Linked DNA regions of Homo sapiens: region 2 is reported to be linked to region 1. Evidence: microRNA targets listed by miRTarBase, many of them from high-throughput screens and not tested one by one. Region 1 holds a microRNA gene; the other region holds the end of a gene's coding sequence.
The links. Region 1 holds the annotated microRNA hsa-miR-130b-3p (CAGUGCAAUGAUGAAAGGGCAU, at 1,100-1,121, shown strand). A microRNA usually pairs through its seed, bases 2 to 8, with sites in the 3' UTR of a target mRNA and lowers its output. Matches are read on the target gene's strand: a 7mer-m8 pairs with bases 2 to 8, a 7mer-A1 pairs with bases 2 to 7 and ends in A, and an 8mer does both.

Region 1 (3,584 bases):
GGGCAGACGATGGCCGGGATCCTCTTCCGTCTAACCCTCCGCGTCCTGACCGGGCCCTGGGCGGAAGGGATGTCTGCGTGAGTCAGCTGTGTCTGAGGAGGGGATCCTGGGCTGGGCTGGGCGGCCCTACTCGGCGGGTCAGGCGGAGGGGCGCGGCCGGGATCCCGGGGGCCCTCTTTGGAGCAGGGAACTCTAGAAGGGCGGGGAGCCCCCATCCTCTGCTCCACTCTGGGCCTCCAGGCAGAAGAATATGTTAGAAAAGAATCCAGAGTGTATCTAGTGCAGGGCAAGGGGCCAGGGATGGAGTCGTCAGCTAGAAGGGGCGCGTCGTCCCGGGGTGGGGCCGCCCTTTTTCTCCTGGAGCCGCGGGCCGAGTCAGGGCGCAGGGTCGTCGGGCTGTACCCACCCCGCTCCGGGCGCTAGCCGGCTTTGGACTGCGGCTGAGTGCGGGTTCGTCTTTGTGTGTGCGCCCCCTCCCCTGCGTGGCCCGTCAGCTCCTGCTCCGGGATTGGAACAACCCCCTAGTCTGGGGTTTCTCCTCCACCTCAATCCGGAGCGTTCTGGGAAAGGCCTGGGTGTCCTGGGTTCTGAAGACCCCAGGGACGCACCCCGCTGCGGTCTCCTTCCCTGCCCGGATGGACTGGACGGGGGCTCTGCCCCACCCACCCATCCATGGTTGAGCTTCCCGCCCTGCGTGTATTGGGGGTGGTGGGGTCCCCCCTGCTGGCCGCAGGTGCTCTGACGAGGTTGCACTACTGTGCTCTGAGAAGCAGTGCAATGATATTGTCAAAGCATCTGGGACCAGCCTTGGGGATCTCCCTCCCTATAACCCTCACCTCCCACTCCCCAGGCAGGGCCCCTTGGGCTTGCAGGCCCTCCCCTCCCCCCTACCCAATTCGCTCCCTTCTCCATGGAAACTTGAGATTCTAGACAGGCCTGGGCCTCTGGGGTCAGAGGGCACCCTTTCCCCCCGGGCAGAGGCCCCGCCCCAGCCAGCCTGCATTCCAGGTCTCAGATCCCTGCAGACCACCCTGGGGGAGGCACTGGCAGGCCTGCCCGACACTCTTTCCCTGTTGCACTACTATAGGCCGCTGGGAAGCAGTGCAATGATGAAAGGGCATCGGTCAGGTCCAGCCTGCTACCCTGGGAGGGGGAAAGGGAGCTTGCTGCCTCACTCCACTTTCCAGTTGAGAAGGTTGAGGTGCCCAGAGGGTAAGTGTTTCCACTGATTAGGCACAGATGTGAAGCTGGACTGGACCCTCCATCAGAGGATCAGGTGGGTGCAGAGCTGGAGAATCATCCCTAAACTCTCCATCCTGTCATGGCTGGACAGGTGCAGGAGCAGACCTCCCCAGCTTCTGAAAAGCTCTTGTTTGAAGGTCTTTCCACATTGGGTCCCTGGGGTAAGACTGGAACTCCAGGCCTGGTCAGGGTCTTAGGGGAAATACACGCCCAGTCTTTTGCATGGAAGATCATTCTAGGCCTGGCTTGGGCCCAGTCCTTGCTGGAAGCTTGAACAGGGCCAGGCTCTGGAGAGAATGTTCTTCTGGGTGGCAGTTGGGTAAGGGGGTAAGGCAGGCCTTTCAGGAGGCAGCCTTCACCCCAGGACGTCAGCTGGAGTGGTACTATGGACTGACCAGTTGACTGATCAGTTGAGTGGACTCAGCTGGAGTGGTACTATGTGAGATGGATGGGTGGACTTGGGATACAAAGCCTGCAAATGATGTCTACCAACCATGCCAGTTTGTTCTCTTACAGAGAGGTGTGCCCTGAACCTGCAGGAGGGACTGAGGTGTCTAACATTCCAACCGTCCCAGCTGGAATACAGGGTTGGAGCTGAACTTCCAAGGAGCCTGACCCCAGGCATGCTTGGATGACCACCTCTACCATCAAGACCTGACACGGTGCAAAAGGTTTCTACGTGCCCAGTCACAGTCATTCAAATCTTCTTTAGAGGAGGACTAGGTTTCCAGATGGGCTTTTGGGAGTTCCCCTCATCCCTAGCTGGGCGCATTGGGAAACTGCTTTACCCCTACCCTGGGGAGAGAAGCCCTGGCACCCGTGGGAGGAACAGGGGCAATGACACATGCTCCTTGGCTTCCTAGTCCTGATCCCTTGGGGTTCCTTGATCCTAGGGTCATCTGACTTAGATCCATCCTCCCTTCCTCTAGGCACCAGGGGCCATGGCTGGAGGTGGCCACCCCTCAGTCCTGTACAGATTCTGTACCCACTGGCTGGAGACCCCCATGCAGCTGTCTCCTGCTCTTGCTGCGGGGAGACTGAACTCAGGGCTCTGCTCACTGGCTCCCTCCCAATGGAAGCCTTCTCTGGGCTTCACAGCATTGAATATTCCTCCAGAACAGCTTGTTAAATCAAATTTTTTTTTTTTTAGATGGAGTCTTGCTCTGTCGCCCAGGCTGGAGTGCAGTGGCACGATCTTGGCTCACTGCAAACTCCGCCTCCCGGGTTTAAGCGATTCTCCTGCCTCGGCCTCCCGAATAGCTGGGACTACAGGTGCTACCACACCCAGTAATTTTTGTATTTTTAGTAGAAACGGGGATTCACTATGTTGGCCAGGCTAGTCTCGAACTCCTGACCTCATGATCTGCCCTTCTGGGCCTCCCAAAGTGCTGGGATTACAGGCATGAGCCACCGCACCCGGCCTAAATCAAAATGTTCTCCCTGTGGCAGAAGTGTCCATTAGACTGGGAGCCCCTGAGGCAGAGACAACTGTCATTTAAAAAATCTCTGGCCAGGCGCAGTGGCTCATGCCTGTAATCCCAGCACTTTGGGAGGCCGAGGCAGGTGGATCACCTAAGTTCGGGAGTTTGAGACCAGCCTGACCAACATGGAGAAACCCCATCTCTACTAAATATACAAAATTAGGCTGGGCGCAGTGGCTCACGCCTGTAATCCCATCACTTTGGGAGGCTGAGACAGGTGGGTCCAAGGTCAGGAGTTCAAGACCAGCCTGGCCAAGATGGTGAAACCCCATCTCTACTAAAAACACACACACACACACACAAAAATTAGCCGGGTGTGGTGGTGGGCACCTGTAATCCCAGCTACTAGGGAGGCTGAGGCAGAGAACTGCTTGAACCCGGAAGGCAGAGGTTGCAGTGAGCCAAGATCGCGCCACTGCACTCCAACCTGGACAACAGGGCAAGACTCCCTCTTGAAAATATAAAAAATAAATATACAAAATTAGCCAGGTATGGTGGCGCATGCCTGTAATCCCAGCTACTCAGGAGGCTGAGGCAGGAGAATCACTTGAATCCAGGAGGGAGAGGTTGCGGTGAGCTGAGATTGCGCCATTGCACTCCAGCCTAGGCAACAAGAGGGAAACTCCGTCTCAAAAAAAAAAAAAAAAATCTCTTGGCAGTGTCTGACAAAGAGGAGGGGCCCAATAACCCCCCACCCTTTTTTTGAGACGGAGTTTCGCTCTTGTTGCCCAGGCTGGAGTGCAATGGTGCAATCTCGCCTCACCGCAACCTCTGCCTCCTGGGTTCAAGCAATTCTCCTGCCTCAGCCTTCCGCGTAGCTGGGATTACAGGAATGTGCCACTACGCCCGGCTAATTTTTGT
Region 2 (3,000 bases), not on the chromosome of region 1:
TGCTGGAGCTGGCCAGACCCCCCCACTTGCCTGTGAGTGGCCAGAAACAGCTGCCAGAGGCCCCCAGTGCTTCTCCCGTCCTCTCCCAGTGGCCAAGGGCCCCGGGAGGGCTACTGCAGCAACACTAGGAGATCTAGCACCTGTGGCTGCCTGTGCTCCTGGGAGGGGCTTCAGGTGATGTGGCGTGCCACCCCGTCCCCACACAGCTCAACCTTGGGTGCTCTGGCTGTGAGCATTTGTGGGGAAGGGATGGGAGTATCCATTGATGGGCAGGGTGGGTGCTTTAGCCTTCACTCCATCTTCCATGGTGTCACTGGCCGCCGCCTTCCTCCCACAGGGGAGAAGCCCTATGCCTGCTCGCACTGCAGCAGGGCCTTTGCCGACCGCTCCAACCTTCGGGCCCATCTGCAAACGCACTCAGACGCCAAGAAGTACCGGTGCCGGCGCTGCACCAAGACCTTCTCCCGCATGTCCCTCCTGGCGCGGCATGAGGAGTCTGGCTGCTGCCCGGGCCCCTGAGAGGCACGTGGTCGGCGCAGGTAGGAGGGATGGTCCTCACCGGGAGAGCTGGCGTCCCTCCTGCCCCCAGAGGAGCCAGGAGTCTGGGAGGGCGGGGCCTGGCCTCACACTTGGTGCGTCCTCCACATCTGCGTCCAATCAGAACCAAAGAAGTCCAGCGGGGGCCACTGGGCCGGAGGACACTCCCCCAGGCATCCCACCGCGCGGAGCCCACTCAGAGGAGACTCCTCTCCCGGGGAAGGCTTTCATCAGAACAAGAGCCATGGTTCCATTTCGACACGGCCAGGTCTCCGGGGCTACCCTTCCAAGAGTCAGAGCCTCGGGGAGGTGGCCGCCAGCATGGGCCGGCACTGCCGCCGGATGGCTGGCAAGGCTGCCTAGTTCCATTGCAGCAGAAATGAACAGTTCTGACTTATAGTGAGCACCGCCCTGTGGCCCTTCCTCAGTAGGCACAACTACCTCTCAGCCAGCCCCCGCCAGCCTTTGGTTTGGGGTCTGGGACGAGCTGCCCCATGTCACACGTCTATGTGCATGTGCACACACACTCAAACATGTACACACACGTGCCCTCCCCACCTCACTAGACTCTCCGGGAGATGGGGCAGGACTGGGAGAGCCCACGATTGGTGATTTGGGTGTGTTGGGATGAGGCGGAGTGCCTGTGGGATTTGTCCCGGTCAGAGCCTCAGGGGGCTGGGGTCTCAGGGCACTCAGCTTCCCAGGCAATAACAGCCGTGGGGTAATAAATGGTCTCTGCACACCTGCATGTTCCGTTCTTCGAAGCTTTGAGTCTTGGCCAATCCCCTGGTTCTGTGGAGGAGGTGGGACTCTGAGAAACTCCCTGAGACAGCAGGATTTGGGGATCGCCTGGGGCCTTTAGCCACCAAGTAGGCAGGAGACTCTGGGTCAGGGCCTGCCACTGTGAAAAACTCTTCTGAGAGGTGGGGACACTGCCAGTGGGTGAGCAGGGGCGCCACTGTGGGCAGAAGCCAGCGCAGGAGTGGGAGAGTGTCCCATGGCACAGAGGAATGGCCAAGAGGCTCCAGCTGGTGCCGGGTAGAGGGCCAAGACCAAGGCCGGGGCAGGCGTTGTGCAGCTGGGGGCAGCGAGTCCTCCCTGCTGCCTGGTCAGAACAGAGGACTCAGGGCTCCTGCTGCAGCCCTCAAGCGCTGCGAGGGTCTGACATGATCACTGCTGTCTTGCAGAGGGTCTGGGCCTCTGTCCACCCATGGTACCTGGGGCATCCGTGAACTGGAATCCCAGACCCTTGCCCTGCCCTGTTGAGACACTGTGCCAAATCGACATGGTTGCCTACACTCAAGACCCCCCTCCCTGGAGTCCTGCTCCCACCATCCAGTGGGGTGGTGGCGTTTCCTTCTTACACGTGGCCTCTTCTCACCGCCGAGCTGTTGGGCGGCCGCCCACTGGGCTGGTCCTCCTCTTCCCAGCATGTCTCAGCCTCTCCAGCTCAACCCCAGGGGCAGCGTCCAGGAAGGAGCAAGGAGGCCCCTCCTAGTCCCTGACACCTTCGCTGATGGGGATGGTGGAAGGGAGGTTTCTGGGAGCGGACACCTGTCCCTCAGGAGGGCTGGGCCGCTGTCAGCTGCCCTGCTTCTGGCTGCAGACAGGAAGACATCATTGTCCTGGTCCTGGAATGGAGCCACGTGGAGAGCGGCAAGCGCTCCCCTTGCTCCCAGAGCCCACTGAGCCTCCCGTCCATCCGTCTGTCCATGAGACTATTCAGGGGGGCTCACAGGGACCACACATGAAGCACCTTGTTGCTCAGCCACTTGGCTGCTCCAGTCCCAACCCGGGCAGTGGGAGCCCCACTCGGGGCAGCCCCGCCTGCAGATCAGCCTGGCTAACACCTGCCAGGTGCTGACGGGCCCTTGGGCAGATGGCTTGACGACACCTGTTTGAAGAGCCTTGGGGACATCCCAGAGGAAGCTTGACCTAGACCTTGGGCTCCGCTGGATCAAGGGTGACCTTGAGTAAACCGGCTCCCCAGAAGAGCTTGGGCTCCAGCCGCTACCAGTCTCCACGTGAGCTGGCGAAGTGAAGACACTGAGAAAGCCTCTCTCACCTTCCTGGACCGGGACCACTGCCTCCCCTACAGGGATTGGCCGTCCCCAGAGAGGGAGGCACCCACTCAGCTGCCATAACAAAGCACCCCAGCCTGAGTGGCCGAAACAACAGAGTTTCATTCTCCCCCAGTCCTGGAGGCTGGAAGTCCCAGATCCAGGTGAAGGCAGGGCTGGTTCCTTCAGAGGCTGTGAGGGCGGGGCTGTTCCAGGCTTTCTTGTGGCTTTGGGAGTCCCGTGGCATCTCCCTGTGTGTGTCTGTTTCTGTCTCTCCTCTTCTTATGAGGATACAGTCATGTTGCCCTGCTCCAGGAGGCCCCCATCTTAACTCATGACATCTGCAAAGCCTCTACTTCCAAATATGGTCACAAGCGGAGGGCCCGAAAATTAGGACTTCAAC

Region 2: the mRNA of SNAI3 is a reported target of hsa-miR-130b-3p. The part of its 3' UTR that is shown has no 7-base or 8-base seed match.

What each region holds. Positions count from the first base shown.
Region 1 is chr22:21,652,255-21,655,838 of GRCh38, forward strand. MIR130B (microRNA 130b) reads left to right here and starts at 1,050; the gene lies at 1,050-1,131. It overlaps MIR301B (microRNA 301b), which reads left to right and starts at 727; the gene lies at 727-804. It also overlaps the pseudogene LOC107985532. RefSeq lists enhancers at 1-182, 183-854, 391-440.
Region 2 is chr16:88,675,967-88,678,966 of GRCh38, reverse strand. SNAI3 (snail family transcriptional repressor 3) reads left to right here. Exons shown (of 3, transcript NM_178310.4): 3 at 338-1,279. The coding sequence ends at 519. The region is part of intron 3 of SNAI3-AS1 (SNAI3 antisense RNA 1); the gene reads right to left. Among named protein-coding and RNA genes, the nearest start is that of SNAI3, 9.0 kb to the left of the region's middle. RefSeq lists enhancers at 1-676, 677-1,434.